2 separate regions of the Homo sapiens genome follow, and region 1 is linked to region 2. Evidence: fine-mapped expression QTL. Tissue or cell type: whole blood. Region 2 holds a variant in brackets; the other region holds the start of a gene. All regions are shown on one strand. Distances are between the middles of the regions.

The links. PIP is the estimated chance that this variant, and not a neighbour inherited with it, causes the effect.
Region 1: DMRTC2 starts here. The variant in region 2 is fine-mapped to the expression of DMRTC2 in whole blood (TOPMed, PIP above 0.99).

Annotation. Positions count from the first base shown.
Region 1 is chr19:41,841,016-41,849,103 of GRCh38, reverse strand. DMRTC2 (DMRT like family C2) reads right to left here and starts at 4,062. Exons shown (of 9, transcript NM_001040283.3): 1 at 4,003-4,062; 2 at 1,452-1,679; 3 at 1,223-1,368; 4 at 576-652; 5 at 129-309. The coding sequence starts at 1,675. It overlaps LYPD4 (LY6/PLAUR domain containing 4), which reads left to right and starts at 4,421. Exons shown (of 5, transcript NM_173506.7): 1 at 4,421-5,526.
Region 2 is chr19:41,807,213-41,815,311 of GRCh38, reverse strand. CEACAM3 (CEA cell adhesion molecule 3) reads right to left here. Exons shown (of 7, transcript NM_001815.5): 3 at 6,382-6,499; 4 at 5,295-5,347; 5 at 4,958-4,989; 6 at 4,415-4,480; 7 at 3,758-4,140. The coding sequence ends at 4,075. It also overlaps the pseudogene LOC100422623. Among named protein-coding and RNA genes, the nearest start is that of CEACAM3, 15 kb to the right of the region's middle. The variant T/G (reference allele first, on the strand shown) is at 3,560.

The DNA.
Region 1 (8,088 bases), 34 kb before region 2:
GTATAGGGGCCAAGGTCATAGTTTCTTTCCTCCCTCTCCCCACCTATGCTTTCTTCCTCTTCCCTCTCCAATATGTGGCAGATTGGCACTCAAATATATGTTGAATGAATGTTGAATTATCATCTTACCAGGGAAGGGAGGCAGAGAGACAGCAGGTTCTTGGTACAGCAGGCGGCACACCACTGGTGGTGGCATGGAGAAGCCTGGAGGCAGCCAGTGTCCAGGGACCCAAGGGCCAGGAGGCACCGGAGTCCAGGACAAGGGCGAGGCTTCCGGGGGATGGCTGAGCAGCAGAGGCCCACAGGAGTTCTGCAGGGGCAGAGGGCACAGGCTGGAGTTGGGTACAAGGCTGGAAAAGGATTGAGTGTATTCTGGGATACGGGCAGAACCCCAAAACTTTGGGGCTGGGAGGCCCTCGTTTTCCCCTCATTTTGCCTAGAGAAGAGCAGTGATTTGACTAGATTACATAGCAAACCAGGGCTGGGGCTAGAACCCAGGTGTTGAGGGCACAGAAGAAAGGGTCTGGGTAGGAACTAGGGTGGGGGACACTTTCTCAGGCCCCAGCCTCTCCTTACCTTCCCGGGGGGTGTCGGTGCCAGCAGGACTGCCCCATGGGGGGTCTGAGGCTGGGGTGCTATGTTCTCCTTTCCAGCTGTGAAGGACCAGGGAGAGCTCTAATGAGCCCTTTCTCCTGACCCCTATCCTACCCCAACCCCAGACAGTTCTCATCTCCCCCATCTAGCTCATTTTTTTTTTTTGAGATGGAGTCTTGCTGTGTCGCCCAGGCTGGAGTGCAGTGGCGTGATCTTGGCTCACTACAACCTCCGCCTCCTGGGTTCAAGTGATTCTCCTGCCTCAGCTTCCCGAGTAGCTGGGACTACAGGCATGCGCCACCAAGCCCAGCTAATTTTTGTATTTTTAGTAGAGACGGGGTTTCACCATGTTGGCCAGGATGGTCTCGATCTCTTGACCTCGTGGTCTGCCTGCCTCAGCCTCCCAAAGTGCTCGGATTACAGGCGTGAGCCACTGTGCCCGGCCTCTAGCCCATTTTTGACCCACAGAACTCGCTGCATTCTCTCAACGCTGGGACAGCTGAGGCCGAGGGAGTAGAAACCCTTAGTTCAAGGTCGTACACCAATTCAGCAGCAGGACTGGGCCTCTTTTTCCCATACCTGCCTCCTGTACCCAAACTCCTGCCCCATCGCTGGTCAGAGACACTCACAGGGGACCTGTGGCTGAGTGGTTCCCTTTCTGAAGTGGTTGGGAGCTTTGGGAGAGGCTTCCCCTCTCCTCATCAGGTGCTTCTTTAGCTGCGCCTCCTGCTGCCTACGCAAGGCCACCTGGGCAGCCATGACCCTGCGGCGCTCCCTAAAAGTGGGGAGTTGCAAGTCAAAGGTCAGCCACCCTTTGGAGGAGGCTCATCCTCCTCCCCTCCCAGACCTCATACTCACAGGATGAGGACACATTTGTGACACTCGCAAGCCTGGAAGAGGCAGAGGCGCTTGTGGCCCTTGAGATGGGCGGTGACACCATGGTTGCGGCAGCGGGCGCAGGTTGGAGAGCGGCTGATGGCTCTCCTGGGGATCAGCTCTGTGCTCTGGGGGTCTCTGGTCTCATCCCAGGGGGCAGAGTCTAAGGGGCAGTGGTAGCCAGCAGGCATGTCACTGGGTTCCATGGATCTAGGGGCAGGAGTGGAAGGTAAGCATAGCCAGGTGGGCCTGCCCCTAACAACCCTCCTGCCCTGGAGACCACACCTGCAGGTCTCCATCCTGCCCCTCTTTAGACCCCGCCCTGATTCTGGCTTCTTTCCCAGCTTTCTCCCCTCTTTACCCCATGACATTTCTCAGGTATCTTCCTTCTTCAGAAACCCCTCTCCTCTTCCTCTTCTGTGTTCTTTCTTTTTTTTTTTTTTTTTTTTTGAGATGGAGTCTCACTCTGTCTCCCAGGCTGGAGTGCAGTGGCACGATCTTGGCTTGCTGCAACCTCCACCTCCCGGGTTCAAGCGATTCTCCTGCCTCAGCCTCCTGAGTAGCTGGGATTACAGGCAAGAGCCACCATGCCCGGCTATTTTTTTTTATTTTTGTATGTTTAGTAGAGATGGTGTTTCACCATGTTGGCCAGGCTGGTCTCGAACTCCTGGCCTCAAGTGATCTGCCTGTCTCGGCCTCCCAAAGTGCTGGAATTACAGCCATGAGCCACTGCACCCGTCCCCCCTTTTTTTAATTTAAAAATTTTTAGGCCGGGTGCGGTGGCTCAAGCCTATAATCCCAGCACTTTGGGAGGCCAAGGCGGGTGGATCACAAGGTCAGGAGATCGAGACCATCCTGGCTAACACAGTGAAACCCTGTCTCTACTAAAAATACAAAAAATTAGCTGGGCGTGGTGGCGGGTGCCTGTAGTCCCAGCTACTCCAGAGGCTGAGGCAGGAGAATGGCGTGAACCCGGGAGGCAGAGCTGGCAGTGAGCCATGATCGCGCCACTGCACTTTAGCCTGGGTGACGGAGCAAGACTCTGTCTCAAAAAAAAAATTTTTTTTTAATTGTTTTTTATTTTTATAGAGACAAGGTCTCATTATGTTTCCCAGGCTGGTCTGGTCTCGAACTCCTGGGCTCAAGCGATCCTCCTGCCTTGGCCTCCCACAGTGCTAGGATCAGAGGCATGAGCTGCTGCGCCCGACATTCTGTATTCTTTCAATTCAAACATTCTTTTCTTTCAATCCAAACACTTTCCCACCCACACACACATCCTAGGTTCCAACCTACTCATGTCCTCACATACCCCTTCAGCGAGTCCTACATCCCCTTTTCACAAGCACCCTGTTCCGTCCCAACAGTGTTTCCTGGCATCCTCTTCAACAATGCTCACCCCACTCTCATGCATTCATCCAATGCCTACCAGTAGTTTTATGCCCCTTTCAATTCTTAGTTCAATTTCAATTCTTAGTCTCATCTATGCCCTGCAAAGCAACTGCCTCCTTGCATTCCTTTAGTCTTATTTTGTTCTTGTACCCCTTTAAATCAGAACCCTCTCTTGCACCCCCAATAATTACCTTATTCTCATGGATTCCCTGCTCCACTTTCTTTTTTTTTTTATTGACAGGGTCTCGCTCTGTTGCCCAGGCTGGAGCGCAGTGGCGTGATCATGGCTCACTGCAGCCTCCACCTCCTGAGCTCAAGCAATCCTCCTGCCGCAGCCTCCCCAGTAGCTGGGACTACAGGCTGGAGCCACTATGCTTGGCTCCCCTGTCCCACTTTCTTTCTTTCTTTTTTTTTGTTTTGAGATGGAGTCTCACTCTGTAGCCCAGGCTGTAGTGCAGTAGTGCAATCCCGGCTCACTGCAACCTCCGCCTCCTGGGTTCAAGCAATTCTCCTGCCTCAGCCTCCCGAGTACCTGGGATTACAGGCCTGTGCCACCACGCCCGTCTAATTTTTGTATTTTTAGTAGAGATGGGGTTTCACCATGTTGGCCAGGCTGGTCTTGAACTCCTGACCTGCCTCAAGCGACCTGCCTGCTTCGGCCTCCCAAAGTGTTGGGATTACAGGCATGAGCCACCGCACCCGCCACCTGCCCCACTTTCAAGTTATTTTCCTTCACTCCTTCATTCATTCCACAAATGGTTACTGAGCCCCTGTCATGTGCTAGGCCCTGATCTGGGCCAAAAACCTTCTCCTTGGGGCACTAATGTCTCTCTTGCGCTCACACCTTATTCAGGTTTTTGTGTAAACATGTGAAGTCACTGTGTCCAGCGCTTCCTGCTCCTGTGGCCACTACCAACAATTAATTTCATGCATGTCCCCCTCCCCCCTTCCCGTGCCCCAGGGAGCGAGTGGGGAACCGGGAACGCGCCAAGGGGCCCGCGAGGCAGGGAAGGGGAGAGGGGGCGCGAGGGCGGGAGGGGCGCGAGGGGGAGGAGAGGGGATGCCTGGGTTAGGGAGTCCGGCTAAGAGGGAGGAGGACGGAAAGGCAGGAGGGACCGTGTTCGTGCAGCTAGTTCACGGTTACCACAGCCTCCAATGGAGTCAGATTCAGTCAAGAAGACGCCCAAAGACACTGTGAGAAAGTGGCCAGAGGAACCGCCAAGCTCGCGCTGCTTTTCTTACCCTGTCTCACAAAGACCAATGAACTTCAAGCATCGCCTCTCTCAGCCGAGGCAGACGACCAATGCGGTTTGAGATCCTGAACTGATGTCCCGCCCCTTCCCTTCTGCCAGCTTCTTGGCGCACAAGACTATCAGTCCCACCAATAGCGCTTCGAGTTGAGCCTCGCGCCACCGCTGCCTCTCCCTCCGCACGTCCTGCCCGCCCAGACTGTCTTCCCCCTTTCGAGGCAGGTGGCCAATGGGGCGTCGAGTACCCCTTATTGGACCGAGGCTGGCCCCGCCCCCCAGGAACGGCCCGCCTGGCCCCGCCCCTGGGGCGTTGACCAAGCCCGGTCTGTGCACGGGTTGCCTCGTTTCTGGCCTTCCCTTGCCTTGTACCTCGACTTCGCGCGTGGCTTGTTTTTGCTGAGTGGAGGCCTGCGTTTTCTGTTATGTCTCTTCCGGTGCCCCACAACTCCTGAGCTACCCTTCTTTTATGCGTTCTCTCCCAGCGCTGTGATTACCGGGTTGCTTACCGGGCCCTCCTTCCTCAGATTGCACCCCTTTCCTTGTGTCTCTTCTTGTCTTTGTGTCGGTTGTGATTTTCCTAATCTCTGATTTTCCTTTTCTCTCGGACGCTCTCCCTCTTCGGACCCATTTTCTCCCGTGCTTCATGCCCTGATAGCCTGGCCCCTTCCCGGCTTCCTTCGCTACCGGGGACGCCTCTAGTTTTTCTGAATTTCTGGCTGGCTCCACCCTCCGCGTTCATCTTCCTCAAGAGTTCGCCCCTCTGGGGGCTCCTCTGTGTAATCGTCGCCTTCTCTGGGTATTTCTGTGAACTCCGTCTCACACCATCCCGCCATCTTCTCTGCCTTGGCCCCTTTTCTCTGTACAGCCAGCTCTGTGTCCTTTTCTTCTCCCCCTCTAAAATCGACTCCTCTTCTCCCTGAGAGCCCCACCTTTGTGCCCCACTCCTCATTTTCCTACGCCTCCCTCTCTCTGCTGGTCCTCTCTCTCCCTGCAAGGTTCCATTCCATCAATTTGTTTGTCTTTTGTAGGGGTGGCATCCCCTCTGACTACTGCTCCATCCTTTTTTTTTTTTTTTTTTTTTTTTTTTTTGCTTGAGGATTTCACTTCAATCTTTTCTGGTTGCGTCTCCACTTGTACTCAGCTTGTTAGGTCCAGGTCCAGTTGTTCTGCATCTGAGGCTGGCGTGTGCTGTCTTCTCTGATTGGCCTAATCTCCCTCACCCCCGTGAGATCTGTTGTCAGCCTTCGTTTCTCTTTCCTGTGTCCCAGCTTTTCTGCGGGTCTTGGCACCTTTCTTGGCCACAGATTTCTGGGTTACAGAGCATGTGTGTCTGAGGCATTGCAGGCAGAAAAGGGTGGCCGACGTGACCTCTAGCTGGACTGCTGGGCAGGGGAGCTGTCCTAGATAAAATTGGAAAGGTTGGGTGGCGCTTATCTGGGGTGGGGTGGGGTGTGGTCGGGGGAGGCTTAAAGGCCAGCTAAAGAGGTTGAACTTGATCCTTTAGGTAGTGGAGAGAGAGTGAGAGGAAGTGTGTGTGGGAGGGAGGGATAGTGGTAGAGGAACAGGGTAACCAACGATTATAAAGAGCTTAGCATTTGCCTAATACTTATGGTAATAATTTTATTGATCTTCACAATGACCCTATGAGATGTATTATACTTCATTTTATAAAGAAGGTAGTAGGCTCTGAGTTCAACAAATTGGACAGCTAGTAAATGAAGGGGTAAAGATTCCAACCTGGGTCTCTGAGGCCAAGGTCAGTGATCTTTGTACCCCCTCCTACACTGTTATTTTCCACCAATTCCCCACTTTCATTCCCTAACCTTCTTATAGGCAATTCTCATTCTAAGGTGGTTAATATGTATCTTTTGGTTTGTGTGTGTGTTCTCCCAGGATGTGTGTAGTGTTGTTGTTGGGGTTTTTTTTTTTTTTTTTTTTTTTTTTTTTTTTTTTTTTTTTTTTTAGCGATGGGGTTTTGCCATATTAACCAGGCTGGTCCAGAACTCCTGGCCTGAAGTGATCTGTCTGCCTTGGCCTCCCAAAGTGCTGGGATCACAGGCATGAACGACCACACCCGACCTCTGTTTGAGTTTTTAATTTATGCAAGTGATATTATGTTATATACTATTTGTAATAATCAGCACTGTGATTTTACAATCTATCCATGTACACATTCTGTCATTCTGTCATGATGTGTACTTTTTTTTTTTTTTTTTTTTTTTTTTTTTTTTGTTTAGACGGAGTTTCACTCTTATTGCCCAGGCTGGAGTGCAATGGTGTGATCTTGGCTTACTGCACCCTCCACCTCCTGGGTTCAAGCAATTCTTCTGCTGCCACAGCCTCTTGAGTAGCTGGGATTACAGGCTCCCACCACCACACTCGACTAATTTTTGTATTTTTAGTAGAGTCAGGATTTTGCCATGTTGACCAGCTTGGTCTTGAACTCCTGACCTCAGGTGATCCGCCCACCTCAGCCTCCCGAAGTGCTGGGATTACAGGCGTGAGCCACTGTACCCTGCCTCACATCCTGTGTACATCTAATCAACTTCTTCCAACTCCTGCGTGATATTCCATAGCGTACATCCCCAGCATGTTTTGCATTCACTTGGTCTCAGAGAGGGAAGCTCCCATTGTCTCAACCTACCATCACCACAATAATGCTGCATTCTCTGGGCATGGGAGCTCATGCCTGTAATCCCAGCACTTTGGGAGGCCGAGGTGGGTGGATTGCTTGAGCCCAGGAGTTTGATAACAGCTGGGGCAACATGGAAAAACTCCATCTCTACAAAGCTGGGTGTGTTGGCGCACACCTGTAGTCCCAGCTATTTGGGTGGCCGAGGTGAGAGGATTGCATGAGCCTGGCAGGTGGGGGCTGCAGTGAGCACAGCTGTCCTCCAGCCTGGGCAACAGAGCGAGACCCAGTCTCAGAAAAAAAAAATGCTGCATTATTGTGCATGTTCCTTTGTAGATGAAGGTGGACATTTTTGTAATACCTATGTAGGGTATACTGGAAATGGGTATTTATAAACCCAATTTGACCATGTAGTGTCAGACCCCTGCAATGCTGCTTTGGGCCTGAGATCCTGGTCAGAACTCTCAACTCCTTTGTTTCTCAGAGTCCAGAAATAGTGTTTTATTCCCCAGCCCTCCAAATAATGCCATGAGCATCAGGGGCCAAGGGTTCCTTTATCCCCACATACCTGCCAACACTTGTCTTTTCCCAGCTTTCTGATCCTTACCAGTCTGATAGATGTACAATTTGACAGATTGCATTTCCTTGGTTATTGCTGGGTTTGTGCATTTCTTCACTTTTTTTTTTTTTTTTTTTTTGAGACAGGGTCTTGTTCTATTGCCCAGGCTGGAGTGCAGTGGCATGATCTCGGCTCACTGCAACCTCTGGCTTCCGGGTTCAAGTGATCCTCCCTCCTCAGCCTCCCTAGTAGCTGGGACTGCAGGCACGTACCACCACACCGGGCTAATTTTTGTATTTGTAGTAGAGACAGTGTTTCACCTTGTTGGCCAGGCTGGTCGCGAACTCCTGACCTTGTGATTTGAGGCTAAAGCAATCCTTCAACATTAGCCTCCTGAGTAGCTGGGACTACAGGCACTCCCATGCTTGGCTAATTTTTAAACTTTTTTTTTTTTTTGGTATAGACAAGGTGTTGCCCAGGCTGGTCTCAAATTGCTGACCTCGAGCAGTCCTGGCTCAGCCTCCCAAAGCACTGGAATTACCGGCATAAGCCACTGTGTTGCCCAGGCTGGTCTTGAACTCCTGACCTCAAGGGATCCTCCTGGCTCAGCCTCCCAAAGCACTGGGATTAGAGGCATGAGCCACTGTGCCGGCCTGCATCTTCTCCCTTGATCAGATTTGCCAGCGAACTAACTAAATCTTTTCATAGAATGGATCTTTTTTGTAATAATGTTTGTTGTTGTTTACTATTTCATTGATTTCTGCTATCATCCTTATTTCCATTCTTTTT
Region 2 (8,099 bases):
TTTGCATGTATGGTTGTACATTGATATTTCATGACTGCTCATAGCAAGGAAATTAGTGGTAACACAATTTTTGGTTTGTACTTTTTCCACATCAGAGTCCAAGACCACAAACTGTATTTTTTGATGTCTGGAAACAAAGTGGGTTAGGGGAACTGTACCCTACCTTGGTCTTTTTCTTTCTCAGTTAGGCTATGGCCCCACCCACTTTAGTGGTTTGAAGGGAATGTATTGGTTTTGTCTTTTTCTCTGCACCACGTAAAGTCCAGAAGTATCTTTAGAGGCCTGGAACTTGCTGCTCTTTCAAAAAACAGCTTTCTCGCTGGTCTCCAGCATTTCTGCCTTTCTCTCCTGTACATTAGGAGTTTCCGTCTGGTCACATAAGTCAGGGAAGTGAGCAGGGTGTAAGAGGATCTCATTTATTCCACATGTATTTATGAAGCATCCTTGTGCCAGACTGGGTGCTTGTCACTGGACTTAGCAGAGACCAGGACAGGTGTACTCCTGCCTCCTTAGAACTCACGATTCAGGGGAGGCTCTTCTTAATGTGACTAATTAATGATCAAAGGGTGTGCACATTAAAATTATGAGGTAAACATACAAATTCTATGTGTTGTACATGCTAATTTCACATAACAGGCAAGACCTGAGAAGCCCTCAGAATCACGGTCCTATGCCTTAACCCTATCTGTCAGGAGCCTTAACCCCACTTGTTAGGAGCTGTGGCCGTGCTCAGAAAAGATGACGAGGATGACCAAGACAGACACTGTAGGTGCGAGGACAGTGCAGAGAAGACCTTGTTGACTGCCCAGATGTGGGATGTGAAGAGGATTCTGACCCATCCAAAGCACGGGAGACTCTCGGTGGGGACCTGAGTGACCCTTCCACTGAGCACTCTGAGTGGTGTGTGTGTGTGACCTGCAGGGACACTGATTGACTGGACCTGAGCTCTTGGGAAGGGCAGGGGTGGGTCTGTAGGACCAGAGTTGCCTCTGTGGGTGGGAAGTGGTGGGAATGAGGAGGGTGAGGGTGACTGGGAGGACTCTGGTCTGTTTTTGTCTCCTGGAGAAGTTGGGCCCTACCCTGGGAGACAGATGTTCAGGCCTCCACTTGTCCCTCAGGAGGATTGTGTGGGAAGGACTGGCAGATGGCAAAGGCCTCTGACATGGGGCACGAGGCCTGGCCTGGAGTCACTGAGAGGATTGTTCAGGGGCTCGGTTCAGCTCAGCTTCCCAGGGGCTTAGCTGGAGCTCAGGGAACAGGATGCTGTGCTCAGGCAGTGCTCCAGGCTGGGTGATGGTAGTGGTTCCAAGGTCAGGCACGGGGGTCGGAAGTTAATCATGAAAAGTTCCCACTGTGTTGTAGGCAGAGACAATGGCTTGAGTCTCAGAGGTAGGGACATTCACTGGGAAACCAGAGCAGACTCAGCCTCTCCAAGGTCATACTTTGGGTACAGAAATCAGCCCTGCCAGGGGCGTCAACAACCTTTGCCAACAACCCTAACATTTAGTCATGTGCACAGGGCTCACAACAAATAAATTAGAGAAGAATCAGGTTCTCCCTCATTGTGTCTTTCTCAGGCAGAATAGACTGGGCAGCTTTTCCCGGCAGTTTCTTTCCATCTGTGCGCTCCCTGCTGCAGTGCCTGGGGATGACCCTTCCGTGGTCACTATCCATGGTGCTGATGTCCATGAACGATTGAAGGGCTGGTGAGTTGTGATCTTCCAGTCACATCTCTTTTATTCTTTGTTTTTCTTTTCTTTTCTTTTCTTTTTTTTTTTTTTTTTTTTTTTTTGAGATGGAGTCTCACTCTGTCACCCAGGCTGGAGTGCAGTGGCATTATTTTGGCTCACAGCAACCTCCACCTCCCAGGTTCAAGTGATTCTCCTGCCTCAGCCTCCAGAGTAGCTGGGATTATGGGCGTGCGCCAGCACGTGCAGCTAATTTTTGTAATTTTAGTAGAGCCAGGGTTTCGCCATGTTGGTCAGGCTGGTCTCGAACTCCTGACCTCAGGTGATCTGCCTGCCTCGGCCTCCCAAAGTGCTGGGATTACAGGTGTGAGCCACCACGCCCAGACACATCTCTTTTATTCTTAACAACTAAGCTTGTCACCGAGGAGAAGGTGGAGAGGTACTAGGGGCATGGAGAGCCCTCCGTCTCCCTCTCTCAGGACCTGGAGGGTGCTGGGACGTCACTGCAAAAACTGATGCCACAGTCAGGATAACCCTATCCAGGTGCCCATGTGTACTTTGTAGTGAACAATCATGATAAAATGGCCTTGAGAGGAGAGATGGATAGAACAAGCCCCTCTCAAAGATGCACACATCCTCATCCCAAGATCTGTGAATATGGCACATGGTCAAAGACACTTAGCAGATAAATGAAGGATGATGAGATGGGGAGATTATTGTGGTTTATCCAGGTGGGTCCAAAATAACCATACAAGTGAGACAGGGAGGCGGGGAAGTCAGTGAGGATGGAAGCAGAGCACAGAGAGGTTTCAAGATGCTGTACTGCTCGCTTTGAAGATGGAGGAAGGGGCCAAAGTTAAGGATGCAGGCGGCCTCTAGTAATTGGAAAAGGTGAGGGAACAGACTTTTCCCTGGAGCTGCCAGGAAGAACACAGCCAAGTGGACACGTTGTTGTTTTATGCCACTAAGTTAACAATGGAGTTGTCATCTCTGTTGCCTAGGCCAGCGTGCAGTGGTGTGATCAGAGCTCACTGCAGCCTCAACCTCCTGGGCTCAAGCGATCCTCCTGCCTCAGCCTCTTGAGTAAGTGGGACCAAGACACAAACCAACATGCCTGGCCTGTGGGAATTTGTCACAGCATCAACAGGAAACTGACACAAGAGACATCACCTTGTCTCATCTGACGATGTGTACAAGTGAGGTAAGGAGTCATTTAGAGCTAAATCCTGATGTAAATTTGCAGGTTGTTTTTCCTACTTCCCATCTCATGGCAAACAACCCTGGGCAGTGGCAGAATACCCTCAGGAACCGTGGCTCTGTGCTTTAGTGCAGGGACCAGCCTGATTGTGGGAAGGGGACACCTGGTCTGAGTGAACCTACATGAGATCATTACACTCCCCAGGGCCCTCAGGAGGGACAGAGAACTGCCGGCCCAGGTATGTGGTGGAGCTGCTGGTGAGGCCTGAGTGGAGGGCCCTGCAGGCCAGGGAGAAGAGGAGAGAGGTTGTCCCATTGCCATGGTAGACTGCGTGAGCTTTAGGTGAGAGAGCCCTGTGTCTCTGACCTGGAATCTCCTGTGTGGAGTGGAGGATTGTTCAGTGAGATCCACTCCAGGGGGTAAAGTGGGAACTGATGGGAAATGATGGGCTAGAGTCCCAGGTAGTGTCTGGGAGGATTTTACTCCAGGACTAAATTCTGGGTCTGTCCTCACCTTGATTACTCTGACAGGCCCTCTGTGTGTCCCCTGATATGGGTAAAGATGTCCTGAGCACTGGCCTTTTGGACAGAGAAGAAACCCAGTGGCCAGGGCTAGGCACCGTGGGTCCCTGGGGCAGTATGAGCACAGCCAAGCGCTCAGCTGGCTGGGCAGG[T/G]CTCCTGTGAATCCTGCCCTTTCCTGTGTAGGGTCCACCCCAGCCTGACTCCCAACCCCCTATTTCTGCCTCCCAGGGAAGAGAGACTGGGGTTGAAATAAGTTGGAGATGACATTTTCCTTGTGTGACCCAGGAGAGAATGGATATGGAGTTTCAGGCGAATTTTTGCTAAGTTCCCACTAGCAGAAAAACAGCTAATGAGAGGAAGGGTCCCCTTTATTCAGATCCTTTCCAAGTGACCCCAGGTGGGCCACAGGCCCATTCACTTTCCCTGCAAGCCCCCGCTTTCTGCGGTGATGAGAGGCCTTTGTCCTGACCCACCCAGGGCCTAGGGCAGGCTGTCGAGGTCTCCAGATATTCATCAGGGACCCCCATCCCTCCCTGCCCCCAGACACCAGTGTCTTCTCAGGACTTATAGCTGGTTCTCTGGCTCAGGCTTCATGTCCTTCCCCATCCCCAGGGCTGGGGGCCTTGGGGACTCTCCATCAACACACAGGAGCAGCTCCTGGAGGAAGCTAAGAAGCCACTTCTGCTTTGTGGTCCATCCGGCAGTAAATGTTTGTGTCATGTTTTAGCAATTCCTGTTAAAACAGAGAAGAGGCCTGGACCCCTCTAGTCTCCTCAGAACAGGGTGTGGCGTCTCCCAGGCTCTGGGCCCATCCAGGGCTGCTCTGGGGCTGAACCTGGCTGTGCTCAGGGGGTTCCTGCTCCCAAGCCCCTCCCTCCTCTGCTCGCCACCCCCGTTCTTATTTTCACAGCAGTTTCCTGAATCTCAGAGCTCAGCCGATGCCAGTAGGGGAAGATCCTGGGTCCCCTGGGGCCTGTGGGACCAGAACATCCGTGGCCCACACTCACCTCATAGATGGAAGCTGCTGTCCTGGGGTTGGGTAGGGGGGCCTGGGCAGTGGAGAGAGGGGACATCTGTGGACAGGGAGGGAGGGTCATGGAGGCCCAGCCTGGAAGTTTCCTGTCTCTGATTGGCCAGGATTTACTTCTCTGTGTTTACTTCTGGTCATTTCCCCTCAGGAGTGACCAGCTCTGCCCCTGAGCTCAGCCTCCCAGTGTGGACACAGCACCCTGACCCTTTTCCTGGCTGGGCCCACCCTGCACCCTTGTTAATGTGGGCCCCTGACTGATGGTCCCAGTGTCCACTCTGCACCTGCTGCACTCCAGGGGTCTCCTCAGGTGATGGAGGGTCCCGGGGAGGGGTCAGCACAGGGCGTGGGTGGTCCTGACCCTGTAGGGAGGCCCAGCTCCTGGCCAGGGCAGGGCTAGCCTTGTCCTGTGTGTTTTGGGGGAAGGTGGGTCTGTTCTGTGCTGGGGGGCTGATGGTCCCTCTGCCCAGAGCCTGCACAGCTGGGACCCCAGTAGAAAGGGGCTGGAAGGGGACAGGCTTACCGAGAAGGCAGAGCTGTGGGAGGGACCACGGCCTGGAAACAGAGACAGGAGTGAGCAGCAGGGTGGGAGGAGAGCCTTATCCCCTCTCCAGGAAGGCGTAGGGGGTCCTCAGCTCTAAGATACCTGAGCAGCTGAGGTTGGGGAGGTGACCCATGACCCAGAGCCCACAGGTGAGGGCTGACCCAAGCAATTGGGGTCCCCTGTGTGATGTTTTATGAGATCCTCCTTGCAGCCCCCGGGAAAGGATCAGAGTCTGCCTGGCAGTGACTGGCAGGAGCGGACACTGTGGGGCTGTCCTAGGGGTTCCCAGCCACACCTGGGCTGAGAGGACACTCACCAGGGGCAAGGGCTTGGGGCTGCTGCTCCTTGAGGTCACGCTGGATGCTGGTTCTAGGAAAGGTCAGGGTCATTTGGGAGGGTGCCAGGTTAAAAGCCACAACTTTGGAGTTCGAACAGGGGACAAGAAGGGAAACCCATTTTCAAGGATGGGCATGGAGACCTCCTGTCTCCCTCAGGTTTGTGTTAGGGGGAGCCCAGCAGAGGGGAGTTGAGGAAAGGCTTTAGGAACCCACATCTGTCCTGAGCAGAGGGGAAGGACCCTCAGGCAGATGCCGGGCCAGGAGAACATTGACCCAGGGACCCAGGAAAGGGACTGAGGACCCAAGGAAGGAAACAGACCACGAGGGTTTGCCTGAGAGGAAGGGTCAAGTCCCCAGAGGCAAAGCAGGGCCACGTGTGCAGGACACGGAGGGGACCGCAAGTGTCTTGGATTCTCCTGGAACTCAGTGTCCCTGCTGTGGCCAGACCCTGCACTCAGGGCTGGTGATGCTGAAATGGGACAGTGTCCTTGTCCTCTCTCTCAACCCCTTGGCAAGAGACACAAAGGACGCTCCAGGACATGCTGTTCTGAGGCCCAGGTTCTCCCATCTCACACCTCAGGGCCTATGGTTACCACATCAGCCATGGGGGGCACTGACCCCACCCAGCCTGTCCAGGCTGGTCCACTCCCCATTGTGTGACGGTGCCCAGGATCCGGAGCCTGCAAATCCCCCTCACTGTGTGGATGGATTCAATGAACAATGGGAGGTACCAAGTACAGAGCACGCCCTCCCTCCCTCCCTCCCTACTTCCCTCCCTCCTTCTCTCCCTCCCTCCAGGCAGCTGTGGCTTTGCTGTGTGAGGGAACTAGGGCCACACTCAGGGGTGGGGCCTTAATTGGGCCAAATTCACAGAGGAGGAAGCTGTTGAGGCAGCAACCCAGGGTCAGGAGCTGACGAGGGAGGAGCCGTGGAATAAGAGGGAAGGATCCCTGGGGACTTGGGAGGCCGTGGAGAGCCTGGCCCTGAATACAGGACAAGGTCTCCTTTCTTTTGGCCTGGAGTCAGCCTAGGGGGTGGGAGAAGGATGGGAAAAAGCTGTGGTACCTTCCAGTTTTGGCAAGGAGCAGGAAACACACCAGCGCGGCCACCAGCGCCACTCCGACCAGGACCCCGGTCACGATGCCGGCGACGGCCCCCACAGGAAGGCCTGGGGCATTTTCTTCTGCAGAAAGAAGAAGGCAAAGGGGATAGAGGCCCAAGTCTATCCCAGAGGAAACCACAGGGGCCTTGCAGGGAAGGTGTGCAGTCAGGGAAGAAGGAGATGCCATGGGGCCTGAGTGTAGTCTCTTGTGTTGTCCTCATCACAGATTCCCTTGCTTTCCATGGTGGCACCATTTTCTGCAGGCTTGACACACTGGGCGGCACCAACTCATACATTGTCCCAGAGGTGCCTGCACCTCACCCTGCTCCTGTGCCTTTTAGTCCCTCCTTCCTCTCGCATCATGCCTCTTCCCTCTGTTTCTCCTTTTCCATCCCATGACACTCACAAAGGGCAGGCCCTTGGCATCAACTCAATGCTGATAAGCAGGGATGATGTTCATTGACTGTTTTCAGGGGCCTTCCATGTGCCAGTTCCAGTGGGCACCAACCTACCTACAACTCATCTCATCCTTACATCACCTTGAGGGAGAGGGGGCATCACCCCCAGCTGCAGAGTTAGAATCTGAGACTTAAAGCACCTCAGTAAGTCAAGGAAGGTCACAGAACTCGTAAGTGATAAAACAAAATTTGTACAACATTCCAGGCTGGCCCCAAGGTCAGCTGTGAGAAATCAGAACAACAAGGGGAGGAGGGGTCCTGCAGAGGTGGAGTGAGAGGGCTCAGGGTAGAGTTTGGGATTTGCTTGTGTCCAAGACATGGGCTGGGAAATAAACTTCTAGGCTCTTTCAGAAAACTGAGTGGCTTTACCCAGGGCTCAGGGCCTATGCTCCAGGGATCCACTTAGCAGAGACTGTGATTGTCTTGACTGTGATTGTACTGAGGCCAGTGGCTGAGTTATGGGCGAGGCAAGCATAGGATCCACTCTTATCCACTGCGATGTTGGGGATAAAGAGCTTTTGTGTGTGTTGCTGGAGCATTCCACTGACAAACCAGGAGTACTGTGCAGGTGGGTTAGAGGCCATGTGGCAGGAGAGGTTGAGATTTGCCCCTGGATGGTAATAGGAGTCTGGGGGGGAAATGGTGGGAATGCCCGGTCCATCTGGAGTAGCGAGAATAAAGTCATAGATGATATCATCAAAGGGAAGGGGAAGCTCCTGGTCTGTGGAAGAGCCACAGTGTCCCTGTGAGCCAAGTCACAACCTTGAAGTCCTAACGAAACCCAATCTGTCCACTGAGTCTGGGTCTGAGATATTCACCTGTTTCTCCCATCACAGGCTGTGGACCCTGAGCCTCCCAGGACAGGAGCAGCCTCTCCCCTCCTATTCTTGGTCAAGGCTGGGTCTGCCCAGGTTTGCTTGGGACAGGAAGTGATGGCCAGCCTGGGTGAGAGTCTGAGTCCCTGGACTTGAGAGGGACTGAGAGGCCTGGCCTCTGGCTGTGTGGATTTGGGCTGGAAGCCTGGGCCACAGAGGAACAGAAGATACAGAGGACATTCAGCGTGACTGGGTCACTGTAGCTGGCACCCACTGGGTTCGGTATTTCACACTCATAGGGTCCTGTGTCATTCCTTGTGACACTGAGTAGAGTGAGGGTCCTCTTGTCATTGGACAGCTGCAGCCTGGAACTGACCGGGAGGCTCTGACCATTTACCCACTACAGGC